Homo sapiens: one gene and its partner. The protein of the gene in region 2 interacts with the protein of the main gene of each other region in a biochemical or structural test. Each region holds a gene or a part of one and is shown on either strand. Other genes may lie near its edges. The genes, in order: HEATR5B and KDM8.

What was found.
Region 1: the proteins of KDM8 (region 2) and HEATR5B form a complex in vitro, tested with the Homo sapiens proteins (one study listed by BioGRID).

What each region holds. Positions count from the first base shown.
Region 1 is NC_000002.12:37,060,182-37,067,459, reverse strand, and holds part of HEATR5B (HEAT repeat-containing protein 5B), read left to right. Parts: intron 1-1,549; coding exon 1,550-1,705; intron 1,706-2,469; coding exon 2,470-2,720; intron 2,721-5,409; coding exon 5,410-5,521; intron 5,522-6,726; coding exon 6,727-6,879; intron 6,880-7,278.
Region 2 is NC_000016.10:27,206,277-27,213,554, forward strand, and holds part of KDM8 (bifunctional peptidase and arginyl-hydroxylase JMJD5), read left to right. Parts: intron 1-3,816; coding exon of another isoform or gene 3,817-3,847; coding exon 3,848-4,345; intron 4,346-4,869; exon of another isoform or gene 4,870-4,945; intron 4,946-7,278. UniProt on the Homo sapiens protein: Bifunctional enzyme that acts both as an endopeptidase and 2-oxoglutarate-dependent monooxygenase.

The DNA of each region.
Region 1 (7,278 bases), on a different chromosome or scaffold from region 2:
TAACTGAAAATTATGAATCGTGAATTAAAGTGTTTAAATTAATGAGATATCATTCCTTAAATATGCTAAAATAGTCATCTGTCTTAGATTCACAACTTAAAGAATAATTTGCACATTGATTCATTGAGGAAATGTTTAGTGCCAGAAACACCGCGTCAAATGGTGGGAGTAAAATAGCAAGCCAGATGCATACAGCACCTATCCTCAGGGAGCTTAAAGTTTAGCAATCAAAAGCTAGAGTTTATGCATTTCCAAGTCCAGAAATACCTAAAAACAAGAGTTATTTGGCCAGGCATGGTAGCTCATGCCTGTAATCCCAGCACTTTGGGAGGCCAAGATGGGTGGATCACTTGAGGCCAGGAGTTCTTCAAAAACAGCCTGCCCAACATGGCGAAACCCTGTCTCTATTAAAAAATACAAAAATTAATCAGGCGTGGTGGCGTACACCTGTAGTCCCAGCTACTCAGGAGGGTGAGTTGGGAGGACTGCTTGAACCCAGGAGGCAGAGGTTGTAGTCAGCTGAGATGGCACCACCGCACTCCAGCCTGGACAACAGAGCAAGACTCTGTCTCAAAAAAAAAAATTTAATTATAGTCTTCAATTTATTAATCCATTATATCCTAGTCTGTATTATGTATTTTATAGTCTATTAATTAATAATGAATGCAAAAAAGAAAGTTTTACTATCATTTAAAGGTTCTTAATGTTAAGGTCATAAATTCGTTATTTGATTTTTTTTTAAATCCTGAAAGCAGAATTAAATATAATGATACGTATTGGGGATTTGTGGGCCAGAATGTATTCTCAATTAGTAGTTTGGCAAGCGATCTTTGGTTGTCTCTTGTCAAACACATTTCGATTCTAGTGGAAGCTAAAAGGTTGGGGTAGCAGGCAGCAAGGTTAATTAATGGGAACTTACAGAAACATTCCAGTAAGAGGTAACTTAAGGCATTTTCCTTATAGATTCATTTTCTGGTCAGTAATTTAACAGATACCTCCAATATATTGGAACACTTAAAGTAGCAATGGTAATAAAGTAATAATAGCTGTTAACATTTATTGAATGTGTATTATGGGCAGCATTGTGTTAAATTCTTTATATGCACTGACTTTTTAATCACCACAGTACCGTTTGAAATAGGCATGTAAGCCCATTAACAGATAAGGAAATTGGGACAGAAAAATTGAACATCTTGCTCAATGTCACATAACTAATATAACTAGTGGAATTGGGATTTGAACCCGAGTCTTCTTTCTGCAGTATCTGTGCTTTTATACACTGGATTGCTGCTGCTTGCTAAAATTAGGTTGTATTCCTGGAAGCAAAGATGTATCTCAGTATATATTTTAGCATTATTATAAAGCTATTAAACAACATTTTTAAGTCACTTCAGTGTTTAGTTCTACAAGTTTTCTATTGAGAAATAACTGCATAGTTTTTAACACTCGGACATCAACTGGTATGGCTAAAATCATAAATTGTATAGACCAAAAAAATCATACCACAATTCATTTCTCCTATGTCAAAGACATGATTTTGTGTTTCCAGAAGCAGTAGTGAATGACACAAGTGGAGAAAACAAATCTGGCGCAGCAGACATTGCAGCAAGCCAGCATGTGATGGTCTGTGCCCTCCAGGAACTCGGGAGCCTGGTGCAGAGCTTGAATGCCACCGCATCCCCTCTTATTCAAGAAGCATCTATAGGTATGACATTCAGTTACTTGCTAGTATGTGTTTCCACTTTTTTCAGTCATAAGTGTGATTGATATTTAATTCCTGATTAGTTGCTTATCATCATCATTAGCACTTCAGATCATCAGGTTTTACTTAAATTAATATTCATTGTGATAGGCTGGGCGTGGTGGCTCGTGCCTATAATCCTAGCACTTTGGGAGGCCCTGGTGGGCAGGTCACTTGAGATCGGGAGTTCAAGACCATCCTGGTCAACATGGTGAAAGTCTGTCTCTACTAAAAATACAGAAATTAGCCAGCTGTGGTGACACGTGCCTGTAATCTACTTGGGAGGCTGAGGCAGGAGAATTGCTTAAGCCCAGGAGGCATAGGTTGCAGTGAGCCGAAATCATGCCACTGCATTCCAGCCTGGGGGACAAAGTGAGTCTCAAAAAAAAAAAAAGTTTCCTTGTAAAGAATATTGAATTAAATGGTTAAATAAAGTTTTGGAACAGAAATCAAAAGCAATTGTGGTAGTTTTTTTATAAAAATTGACTAAAATTTGTTGAAGACTTCTATTAAATTTTACATCAATATTGAATATAATTGTACTATGTTCTTCATAGAAAATGTTCCTTTGAAGTACTCTACTGTATGTAGTTTTAGGCAAAGTTGTGGATCTATATGTGTGAAAGCTTGGTGATTGTCATTTCAGTTATTGTTTTTTAGATAGTATTTGAGTTTCTGAAATCATTTGACTTCATTAAAGAGTAATATTTTGAGTATTTCTTGTTTAGGGCTTTTGGAGATTGTGACTTCAGTGCTGCTTCATCCAAGCATGGCTGCCCGACTTGCTGCTGCATGGTGTTTGCGCTGTGTGGCTGTGGCATTACCTTTCCAGCTGACACCATTTCTAGACAGGTGTGCAGAACGGCTCAACAACTTGAAGACCTCACCAGAAGCTGTCAGTGGATATAGTTTTGCAATGGCTGCTTTGTTAGGTGGAGTACATCAGTGTCCTTTGGGCATTCCTCATGCCAAAGGAAAGGTATGACGGAGATCCTAGACTTGGGAATGCTGTCACGTGGGCTTTGGTCTTTATAGGAACGCTGCTGTGTTTAGTGTTGAACAGGGTGGTCAAATAACAGTTGTACTATGTTATCATAAAACATAGTGTTCTTACTATGGTGTTAACAGACCCTATTATAATTTGATATTTAATTCTGATGTAAGGATAATAGATTTTGTCCAAGTCTAGTAACATGTTATAATTTATTTTAGAGGGAAAGAGAAAAAAAACAGCCTAGGCAACATAGTGAGACCCCATCATTACAAAAAATAAAAAAAGTTAGCCAACTTCATGGTCCTAGCTACTGGGGAGGATGGGTTGGAAGGATCACTTGAGCCCAGGAGTTTGAGGTTACAGTGAGCTATGAACATGCCACTGTCCTTCAGCCTGGGTGACAGACCAAGACCTACCCTGTCTCAAAAAAAAAAAAAAAAAAAAACCCAACCTTAGATATAGTAATTATTTGAAAGTCAGAGCTTTTCTTTCAGCTTTTAGAAATAAAAGTTCACATTGCTATATATTCAAAGATGTCAGGATAATACGCTATTGTAATATTTAGCATTTTGATAATGTTTAGTAAAAATTGAGTGGTTTTAATAAATCATGGCCGGGCATGATGGCTCATACCTGTAATCCCAGCACTTTGAGAGGCCGAGGCAGGTGGATCATTTGAGATCAGGAGTTTGACACCAGCCTGGTTAACATGGTGAAACCTTGTCTCTACTAAAAATACAGAAAAATTAGCCGGGCATTGTGGCCCATGCCTGTAATCCCAGCTACTTGGGAGGCTGAGGCAGGAGAATCACTTGAACCCAGGAGGCGGAGGTTGCAGTGAGCTGAGGTTGCACCACTGCATTCCAGCCTGGGTGACAGAGAAAGACTCCGTCTCAAAAAATAAAATAAAATAAAAAATATGAGTAGCTTTTTTTTCTCCTTTCTTTCTGTTGTATACTACTATCATGGTTTTCTTCTCAGTAATCTTAAGTGTTTATATAAATATTATTTGAAACTTTACATAGGCAGATTGGGGCTAGAGTTTTAAATTTTGATTTTTTTTCTGGGACATTAAGCCCATGTCCATTCATAGCAGTTGCATAGCTACCGATGAAATCCAGACTTCCCTCTCACTTTGTCATATCGTTGCTTCCTCATTCTCATCTTCCTCAGACTTTCCATCTTCCCCACACGTCCCATCTTCCTCATACCACTTTCATATTTTACATTTGCCCAGAGACCCTTAGGGACTACCCAGTACTCAGAGAGTAAAATATAATCTCCTTTGTCTGGTAAACTGGTATCTTATAATTTGACTTCATTCCGCCGTTCATTCAAATTTCCTGTTGCTCTAATTAGACTAGTTATCTTCCTTCCTTCCCTGGCCTTTTTCAGCTTCGAAGCCTTTGCTCTGCTAACCTCTTAGAGTTTCATCTCCCCTCTTATTCAGCTGCACCAAATTTAAGTCTATACTAGCCATTCTGTGTGGATGTTAATACAGCAAAGTACCGAGAACAGTGCTAGCCCATGTGACCACTAAATAAATGCTGTCATTATTAGCACTATTATTCCACATTCAAAGATTTGTTGAACTCCTATTATGCATCTACCATTGAGCTAACCTTGCCTGGGCGTGGTGGCTCAGACCTGTAATCCCAATGCCTAGGGAGGCCGAGGCTGGAGGATCACTTTAGGTCAGAAGTTTGAGACCAACCTGGGAAACATAGTGAGACCCTGTCATACAAAAAATAAAAAATGAAATTTTTAAAATTTTCCAAGTATGTTGGCATACACTTGTAGTCCTACCTACTCAGGAGGCTGAGGTAGGAGGATCCCTTGAGCCCAGGAATTCCAGGTTACACCGAGCTATGATTGTGCCACTGCACCCCAGCCTGGGTGACAGAGTGAAACCCTGTCTCTAAAAAACAAACAAATAAGTAAGCTAATCTTTTGGAGCTTACAGTCTTAGAAGACACAGGAAAAATGAGAAGTGGATTTGTCACATGATGAAATGACAAAGTAGTAGCATAGATGCTGTATTAACTTATTTTATCCTTGCAAGGCTGAGATAGGCATTCCTATTATTTCTGTTTTACCAGTGATGGAACTAAGCAGTGCTAAATGAGAATGCGAGTAAATGGCAGAGATGGCATTTGGCCCTAGAGCTTGTCCTTAACTACTACACTGTTCTGGGTCTCTTCAGAGTCATCAGTGCAATCAAGACTAACCAGGTCTTGATGTTGCCTCTTTCAAAAACATGCTAATAACACGAGAGGACAACTTCTTTTTTTTTTGGAGACGGAGTCTCGCTCTGTCACCCAGGCTGGAGTGCAGTAGTGCAATCTCTGCTCACTGCAACCTCCGCCTCCCCAGTTCAAGCAATTCTCCTGCCTCAGCCTCCCAAATAGCTGGGACTACAGGTGCCCACCACCATGCCTGGCTAATTTTTTTGTATTTTTTGGTAGAGACAGGGTTTCACCGTGTTGCCCAGGCTGGTTTTGAACTCCTGAGCTCAGGCAATCTGCCTGCCTCAGCCTCCCAAAGTGCTAGGATTACAGGCATGAGCCACCGCATCCAGCCAACAACTTCTTTTAAGTAATGTATGCTAGTTATCTGTTTCCTTATTTAATTTAACTTGTTTGAATTAAAATCCAATTCTAAACTTTTCTTGCAGATGGTAGTTAGTATTGCTGAAGATCTTTTACGAACTGCTGCCCAAAATAGCAGGCTATCTTTACAGCGCACCCAAGCTGGCTGGCTTTTACTTGGAGCACTTATGACTTTAGGTATAATTATATTTGAGTAGGATTTTTGTCACGCTATAACTGTCAGTAGCCTGTAAAGCAAATTTAATTTAAAAGTGTTAAGCTTCACATTCTGGATTTTCATTGAAGTTGTAAAAATGGTGTAAAGATGTTTTCCTCGTCATTTGCTAGTAGATTTCTCTTTTTGGTAATTATTGCTTAAGTACATTTAATGAGAAAGTTGTTAGCAAAGTTTCACCTTTACCATCAGAATAACCTTTGTCTACCTGATGAGTTTAGTGTTTAAAAGAGATGAAAATATGAGGGAAAATTTCATACCCTAAGTGAAAACCAGCAGTGTGATTTTAGAAGAGTGGTAAAGTCACATTTAATTGGTATTGTTAGTGCTGCTTTTCTGGGGTAACCCTTAATGTGTTTCACTCTTAAGTAGTGTGACAAATCTGCATTGTAGGCAAAATTTAACATTGTACATAGTACAAAAATACCTATTATTGTGATGGGGTATGTTCATATTTTAGTTCATATGTTTAGCTGCTGCTGTAAAAAGTGTGTGCATATATGTACTACAAAGTTATGACACAGATCTAAGCATCTATCTGTTGGAAATTATACTTTGACCTACTTTTCTTTTCTGAAGAAAACAAAAAGTTGCAACTCATTTCCAGAAGTTTATGTTAAGTATGTTCAGTGGTATGTTAAATGAATTTTTTAGCAATGTAAATATAGATTCCTAGGTCTGAATATATTGCCTTTCCATGAAACTAAATTAACCACATAAATTGCCCCCAAAACTAAGGAATATGTATCTGTATGTGTGTGTGAGTGGGTATATTTGTTTATATACATATGTATATGAAAAAGACCTCATAGAATGTGTCTCAGATATATTTTATTGATAATATGCAATCCACCATTCTCAATACAGTTGGGTTATCCTTTAAAAATTGCTTTTTGTGTATTTTATGTTTGGATTCTAAAAATATTGACAGTTTAAGGTGAATTTTGTTATGCTTTGATCTATATTTTAATCAGTGAATAAAGGTTGAAAATAATGTAATTTTAGAGATAAAAATAGAGTGAAATAACAGATATTGTTAAACATCAGTATTTTACTCTATTTTCATCTCTAAAATTACATAAAGTTTGTGTTGGGCTCATTTTGCTTGACACTTGTTTGTAAGGTATGTTACATATACATGGTTTTGTATTCTCATTTTCTTGGCTAGGACCATCTGTCGTTCGTTACCATCTGCCCAAGATGTTGTTATTGTGGCGAAATGTTTTCCCACGTTCCTTAAAGGAATTGGAAGCTGAGAAGGCCCGAGGCGATTCTTTTACCTGGCAGGTAACTTTGGAAGGTCGTGCTGGAGCTCTATGTGGTAAGAACTGAAAGGATTGTGCTTCACAATATTATGACATAACTAAAATATTTGTAAAGTAAAAGAAAAATCACTATTTTATAGTTTTTTATTTTACTAGGTAATGATAAATTCATAGGCTTTTAGATTTAAATAGAAACTTTATAAATGATCCACTTCAGTTTGCTAATTTTGTAATAAAAATGAAACCCAGACTCTGAAAAAGTGTTTAGACCTGGTGGTTAGACAGGAACTAGAACCCAGGCCTCTTATTCCCACTTGTTGCTATCTTACCTGTCAAAGAAGCACTGAGTCACCATGTATAAAAAAAAGAAAAAATACCCAACAGCTATTTAAAGAAAAAGAAACTCAGGATTACCAAAGTTATTGGCATTTGCAGTTAGTCTTTTCATAATGGAG
Region 2 (7,278 bases):
TTTTTTTTTCGGGAGGGACAGACTCTTGCTCTGTCACCCAAGCTGGAGTGCAGTGGCTAGATCTCAGCTCACCCCAACCTCTGCCTCCCAGGTTCAAGCAATTCTCCTACCTCAGCCTCCCGAGTAGCTGGGATTATAGGCGTGGACCACCACGCTGGCTAATTTTTGTATTTTTATTAGAGATGGGTTTTCACCATGTTGGCCAGGCTGGTCTCGAGCTCCTGACCTCAGGTCATCCACCCTCCTCAGCCTCCCAAAGTGCTAGGATGACAGGCGTGAGCGATGCACGTGGCCTTAATATAAGACTTTATAAACAGCAATTCAGTGAGGAGTTCTGGGAAGCCAATCAATAAAGCCAGGCCATAAGGCTACTCTGGCTAGTCCTTTCCTCTAGAAAACCTCTTGATACAACAAGAAGCCTTTTTATCAGACCAGTATATGGGAAATGCCAGAAGGCTGATGAGCCTGGACCTGAGGCCATTCAGAAAGGCAGTGACCTGTGGCTCGCACCTGACCTTCCCAGGAGGGCCATCTCAAGTGGTTGGTGGTGTGAAGGCTGCTTCTCATAGCCCATGAGGCCAGTGACCCTGGAAGATTGTTTCATACAGCCAGCAAGAGAGTGTTTCCCCAGCCAGACCAAGACTCCTTCTGTAAGGCCATTTTGCATGGCTAACAGGAGCCAATGTGAGGCTGCTCCCAGCGGGGTAGATGGACACAACAAACAATTCTTTCCTGGCACAATGAAGAAACCACAGATCGATTTGTAAAACTAAGACAAAATCTGACTTCACCTGGTCCTCAGACAAGCCCCCATCTATAGGAAGGCCAGTTTTTAAAACAAGTTACAAGGGCCGGGCGTGGTGGCTCACACCTGTAATCCCGGCACTTTAGGAGGCTGAGGTGGGTGGATCACTTGTGGTCAGGAGTTGGAGACCAGCCTGGCCAACATGGCGAAACCCCGTCTCTACTAAAAATACAAAAATTAGTCGGGCGTGATGGCATGCGTGCCTGTGGTCCCAGCTACTCAGAGGCTGAGGCAGGAGAATCACTTGAACCTGGGAGGTGGAGTTTGCAGTGAGCCGAGATCGCATCACTGCACTCCAGACTGGGTGACAGAGCAAGACTCCATCTCACAAAACTGCTTTGGAAGACTGCTTCCTATACCAGGATGTGGCTGTTTGATATGGTAACTACATAAAAGGCCAAATCATGAGAGGTTTGGGGAAGCCTATGCAACAAGGCAGAAGACTGATGCGGCCAGAATGCCACTTCACCATGCTGCCAACATAAGGCCTTGTAGGAGGCTATAGTTTTATTTTTTGAAACAGGGTCTCACTCTGTCACCCAGATGGGAGTGCAGAGGCACAAACACAGTTCACTTGCAGCCTTAAACTCCTGAGCTCAAGCAATCTTCCTGCTTCAGCTCCCGGAGTAGCTGGGGCTACAGGTGTGTGCCACCATGACCAGCTAACTAATTTTTTAATTGTTTTTAGAGACAGGGTCTTTACATGTTGCCCAGGCTGGTCTCGAATTCTTGGGCTCAAGCAGTCCTCCTGTTTCAGACTCCCGAGTAGCTGGGATTATAGGTGCCCTGCTGGGGGATAGTGTATAATAATCTTGAGGCCTTTGGGGAGGCCATTTCAAGTGGCTTATACAGAGGCAATCTGAAAAGCCATTTTGAAAACAAACTTATACAGCCATCCTGAAGCCTCTGTCTCTGGAAAACCATCATATATTGTCAACGTAAGTATCTCTGAAGGCCTTTTGATAAGGCCGTTCATTGAAGAACTCTGCATTAAAGAATAATCATAAGGCTATTTCATGTGGCCAAGAGCAGATAGTTTTGTACAGCCAACTCACAGTATTAGGAGGCCATCTTTCCCAGAAGGCTGTGTCCATTGGCCTTCAACATGAGGTCTCCAAGGCCGATTTGCAAAGTAGCAGATAGGCCGCCTATGAAGACCAAACATGAGGCCACCCTGGGAGGCCAGGTGACAAAGCAGACACGGGGCCACTGGGGGAACCTGGCTACAAAGCCGCACACGTGAGGCCACCTTGAGAAGCTGGCTTGGTAAGGCTGATAGGCGCCCTGTGAGGGGCCGTTTTATAAGGTCACCCTGAAACACCAATTTACAAAGCCCGTAATCTGCATTGCAGAGAACAGGTTTATAGCCCATTTGAAACCCTCTGGGAGGCTGTTTTCTAAGGCCATCAAGAGACAGGTTTACAAAGCTGGTACATAGAGCCCCAGTGGAAGCCAGTTTTATAGTAGGGCAATAAATGGTCTCCTGGGAGGCCTTTCCACTGGCCTTTATGAGAAGCCAGGATATGAGGCCCCTGAGGTCTTTTGGATGCTCAAGATGAGACTTCTCCATGTTGCTCTATAAGATTCATGTAAGCCACACACGGGATGAGCCAGGAGGCCACCCAGGGAGGCCAGGGATGGGCCCATGTGGTGTCTTGTGCTGGCCTAGTGGATAAGTCCATGCTGGAAATTGGACTGTGAAACGCTCCAAGAAGGCTGTGAATGAGGCCAACACAAGCCTTCTAGGAGGCTAGAGATAGAACCCACCCTGGCAGGCTGGGGCTCTCTGAGCCCTACCATACCCTGAGCTTGCTAGAAAGAAAGTTCATTGTGAACCAAGAATGGAAATGAACTCATTATAAGCTCAGCCCTGTGGATACAAAGTCCAAAGAGCTCACCCTTGAAGGCAATGAGTGTTCTGGGCAGACACTGCCACTTACTGTGTAGTTTGGCACAAATTGCTTAACCTCGAAATCTCAGTTTATTCATCTGTAAAACTCCCATCATAGGATTGCAAGGGACGTGTTAATCTATGTCAAGCATGCAGCATTGACATGGCGCACAGGAGAGGGTGCTGAGATCAGCCAGAATTTAAGCCCTGCTTCTGCACAAATGATTGACCGTAGGCCTTGGGGCAAGTCACTTCATTTTTGTTTTTTTGTTTTAATTTGAGTCAGGATCTTGCTCTGTCACCCAGGCTGGTGGCATGATCTCGGCTTACTGCAACCTTTGCCCCCAGGCTTAAGTGATCCCACCACCTTTAATCTCCTGAGTAGCTGGGACCACAGGCATGTACCGCCGTGCCCAACTAATTTTTGTATTTTTTGTAGAGACGGCGTCTTGCCATGTTGGCCAGGCTGGTCTTGAATTCCTGAGCTCAAGTGATCCAATTGCCTCGGCCTCCCAAAGTGCTGGGATTACAGGCGTGAGCCACCATGCCGGCCTTCTCGAATACTTTTCAAAGCCTGGCACTCCTGAGTGACTGCCATGAGGCAGACTCTGCTTTTAGGCTCTGGGAAACGTAGGGGAATGAGCTACGTTCTTGCCCTGGTGGAGCTGGCAGTGCAGTGTTGGATAGACACACGTGTAAGCAGGTGTTTTCATACATCCTGACGAGTACTGTAAGAGAAGCTCAAGGGCTGCAGGAACACAGAACACTGTTGGAGAGTCTTGGCAGGCCTCACATAGGGATATTTAAGATGGGCTTTAAAGGTTGGGTAGGAGTTTGCCAGGCAGCGGAGGGGTATGGGAGGCACTGCAGATGAGGACAATACACGTTCCTTTCTGAACAGACGTTTATCCAGTGCTTGCTGAGTACCAGGTGTTGCGCCAGGCCCTGAAGATACAGTGGTGACCCCAGACAGATGAGGGCCCTCCCCTCCAGAGCTTCTGCCCAACAGAGAAGACTGCTGTTGAAAAATCCTCGCAGATGAGATGCAGGAAGCTGCGGGAATGCACAGGGGATCAGGTCTGTCCTGGTGTCTAACTCTTGTTTCTCTCCACCTCCCCAGGCACGGGACTGAACCAGCTGGTGGTGGCCCGATGGCTGGAGACACCCACTGCCCCGCAGAGCCCCTGGCCAGAGAAGGCACTTTATGGGAGGCCCTCAGGGCGCTCCTGCCGCACAGTAAAGAAGACCTGAAGTTGGACCTCGGGGAGAAAGTGGAGAGGAGCGTGGTGACATTGTTGCAGCGAGCCACTGAGCTCTTCTACGAGGGCAGGAGGGACGAGTGTCTGCAGAGCAGCGAGGTGATCCTGGACTACTCCTGGGAGAAGCTCAACACGGGCACATGGCAGGACGTAGACAAAGACTGGCGCCGGGTCTACGCCATCGGCTGCCTCCTGAAAGCCCTGTGTCTGTGCCAGGCACCTGAGGATGCCAACACTGTGGCCGCAGCCCTGCGGGTCTGTGACATGGGCCTGCTGATGGGGGCAGCCATCCTGGGGGACATCCTTCTTAAAGTCGCTGCCATCCTCCAGACACACCTCCCTGGAAAGAGGCCTGCCCGTGGCTCCCTCCCAGAGCAACCCTGCACAAAGGTATGTGGGGGAGATTCTCCCCAAGCACACTAGCCATCCAGCAACCCTGTTGTTCTAGAAATTCCGAGTCATCTCTCCCCTGGGGTGAGGCCTCGTGGCCTGCAACCCCTCTGGTGGAAAACAGCATTGCCATTGATTTTGGATTTCTGTTTGTTTTTGGAAGCAGGGTCCCGTTCTGTCGCCCAGGCTGGAGTGCAGTAGTGTGATCTCGGCTCCTTGCAGCCTCCACTTCCTGGACTCAAGCAATCCTTCTGCCTCAGCCTCCTTAGTAGCTGGAACTATGGGTGCATGGCACCACACCCAGCTAATTTTTTTAGTTTCTTATTTATTTTTTATTTTTTGTAGAGATAGGGTCTCATGTTTCTCAGGCTAATCTGGAACTCCTGGCCTAAAGCAGTCCTCCTGTCGTGGCCTCCCGAAGCACTGAGATTACAGGTGTGAGCCACCGTGCTCAGCCCCCATTGACTTTGGAAATGGAACAGCTCCATTCATTTTCTCTCTTTTTTTTTTTTTTTTTTGCAAAGGCAGCGCCCTTTCAGCAGAGAGGCAGCAGAGAAACTTCGTGGTTCCTGAGGGAAACAGCTTAAAGCGATTGTGTGGGTGAGAGCTGCAGCCAGCGGCAGCCCGTTTCTTTCAGCTTCTTGGTGGGCTTGCTGAAGTCTCACCCAGGCGAGGCGATACCTCCAGCTGCTCCTGTCTCTCTGCTCCTGGGTTTGGATGAGATACTACAACTAGCTGATGTCTGTTTTGGGGTCAATCTCTCCCACCCCTTGGGTCTATGTGCCTGTTCCAAAGAGCACCCCCAGGAACAGAGCATGGTTTACTCTGAAGGCTTCAGGTCCTGGTGCCAACACACAGGCCTCACTTGCAACACACCCAAGCAAGTCACTTAACCTCCTTTGAGCCTCGGTTTCCTTGTCTGTAGAGTGGCAGAGTACTGACCCACAGAAAGAAATGACTAAGACTGTACTAGACACTTGGTAGTGGAATTATGGGATGTTTCTGACATTTTTCTAAATGCTTTGCTATGTTTTCCGAATTTCCTACAATGCATATTATTATTATTATTATTTTTGAGACGGAGTCTCACTCTGTCACCCCGGCTGGAGTGCAGTGGCGCAATCTCAGCTCCCTGCAACCTCTGCCTCCCAGGTTCAAATGATTCTCCTGCCTCAGTCTCCCAAGTAGCTGGGATTATAGGCACCCACCACCACGCCCGGCAATTTTTGTATTTTTAATAGAGACAGGGTTTCACCATGTTGGCCAGGCTTGTCTGGACCTCAGGTGATCCACCCACCTCAGCCTCCTAAGTGCTGGGATTACAGGCGTGAGCCACAAATTATTTTTATATAAGAAAAATGCAAGTGGTTGACACTAAACACACAGGCATGTAACCAAAATAAAAGAAAATCAAATAAAGGGAGAAGAAAATTTTTCCACAAATATGTCAGACAATGAATATCTCTATTACGTAAGGAATGGTACAAATCAATAGGGAAAAAATCTTGAGCCCCAGGAGGTAGAAATCCAGGAACCTGAACAGACTGTTCACAAGAAGGAAATAGATCTGTTAAACAAATGTGCAGGAGAATGTTCAGCCTCACCTCTGGTTAAAAAAATAAAAGAGAGAGATGCAAATAGCAAAACAGCATTTCATCTTTGGCTGTTAAGTTAGCAAACAAGGCTTCATATGATACCCGGTGTTGCCAAGGGCACCATGTGGCCAAGGGCATGGGGTGTGGGTTGCTCTTTTGTTTCATTTTTTTTACAGACAGGGTCTTGCCCAGTCACCCACGCTGGAGTGCAGTGGCACAATCATAGCTCTCTGCAGGCCGGGCATGGTGGCTCACGCCTATAATCCCAGCACTTTGGGAGGCTGAGGCCGGCAGATCACCTGAGGTCAAGAGTTCGAGACCAGCCTGGCCCACATGGTGAAACCTCATATCTACTAAAAATACAAAAATTTGCTGGGCGTCCTGGCACATGCCTGTAATCCCAGCTACTCTGCAGGCTGAGGCAGGAGAATTGTTTGAACCCGTGAGGCAGAGGTTGTAGTGAGCCGAGATTGTGCCACCGCACTCCAGCCTGGGCAACAGAGCAAGACTCGGTCTCAATAAATAAATAAATAAATAAAACATAGCTCACTGCAGCCTCGACCTCCTAGGCTTAGGTGATTTCTCCTACCTCAGCTTCCCGAGTGGCTGGGACTACAGGCATGTACCACCACGCCGAGCTTTTTAAATTTTTTCTAGAGCCAGAGGTTTCTCTATGTTGCCCAGGCTCGTTTCAAACTCCTGGGCTCAAGCAGTCCTTCCACCTTGGTCTCCCAAAGTGCTGGGATTACAGGTATGAGCCAGTGTGGCTGGCCATTTCCCAGCAGGTTCACACCTGTGGACACTGAGGTTCTCAAGCAGCAAGTAACTTACTCAGGTCACCCAGCTGGGAGATGGTTAAGGAAATGATGGTGCAGCCACTCCTAAGAAACTGTAAGGACCGGGTGGCCATGTGGAAACTGCTTTTGATAAATGATTGGAGGGGAGAGGCAGGGCTGCTGCTTCATCATTGCTGTTACTCCCAGTGGGTCAGAGATATTTTGCGTGTGTGTGTGTGTGTGTGTGTGTGTGTGTGTGTGTGTGTGTGTAAGATGGGAAAAGAATAGGAATGAGAAGACCTTAAGATGGTGAAGTTGGAGATAGTAAGTTTTCCTTTATTGCAGAATGTCTGTGAAAGCAGTTTATAATGAAACAAACATTTTTGATGAAATGGTTAAGAAAAAAACCACCTTGATCTCATGAGGAGCAAATAGTAATAGTAGCAGTAATAATAACAAACGTTGTCTATTGTTGTTACTGGTACTCTTGACAGCTAAGCTCTCCTACCCCTGACACAGGTTCCTGGTGGAATACCTCAAATGTCGACTTCCTGAGGTGGTT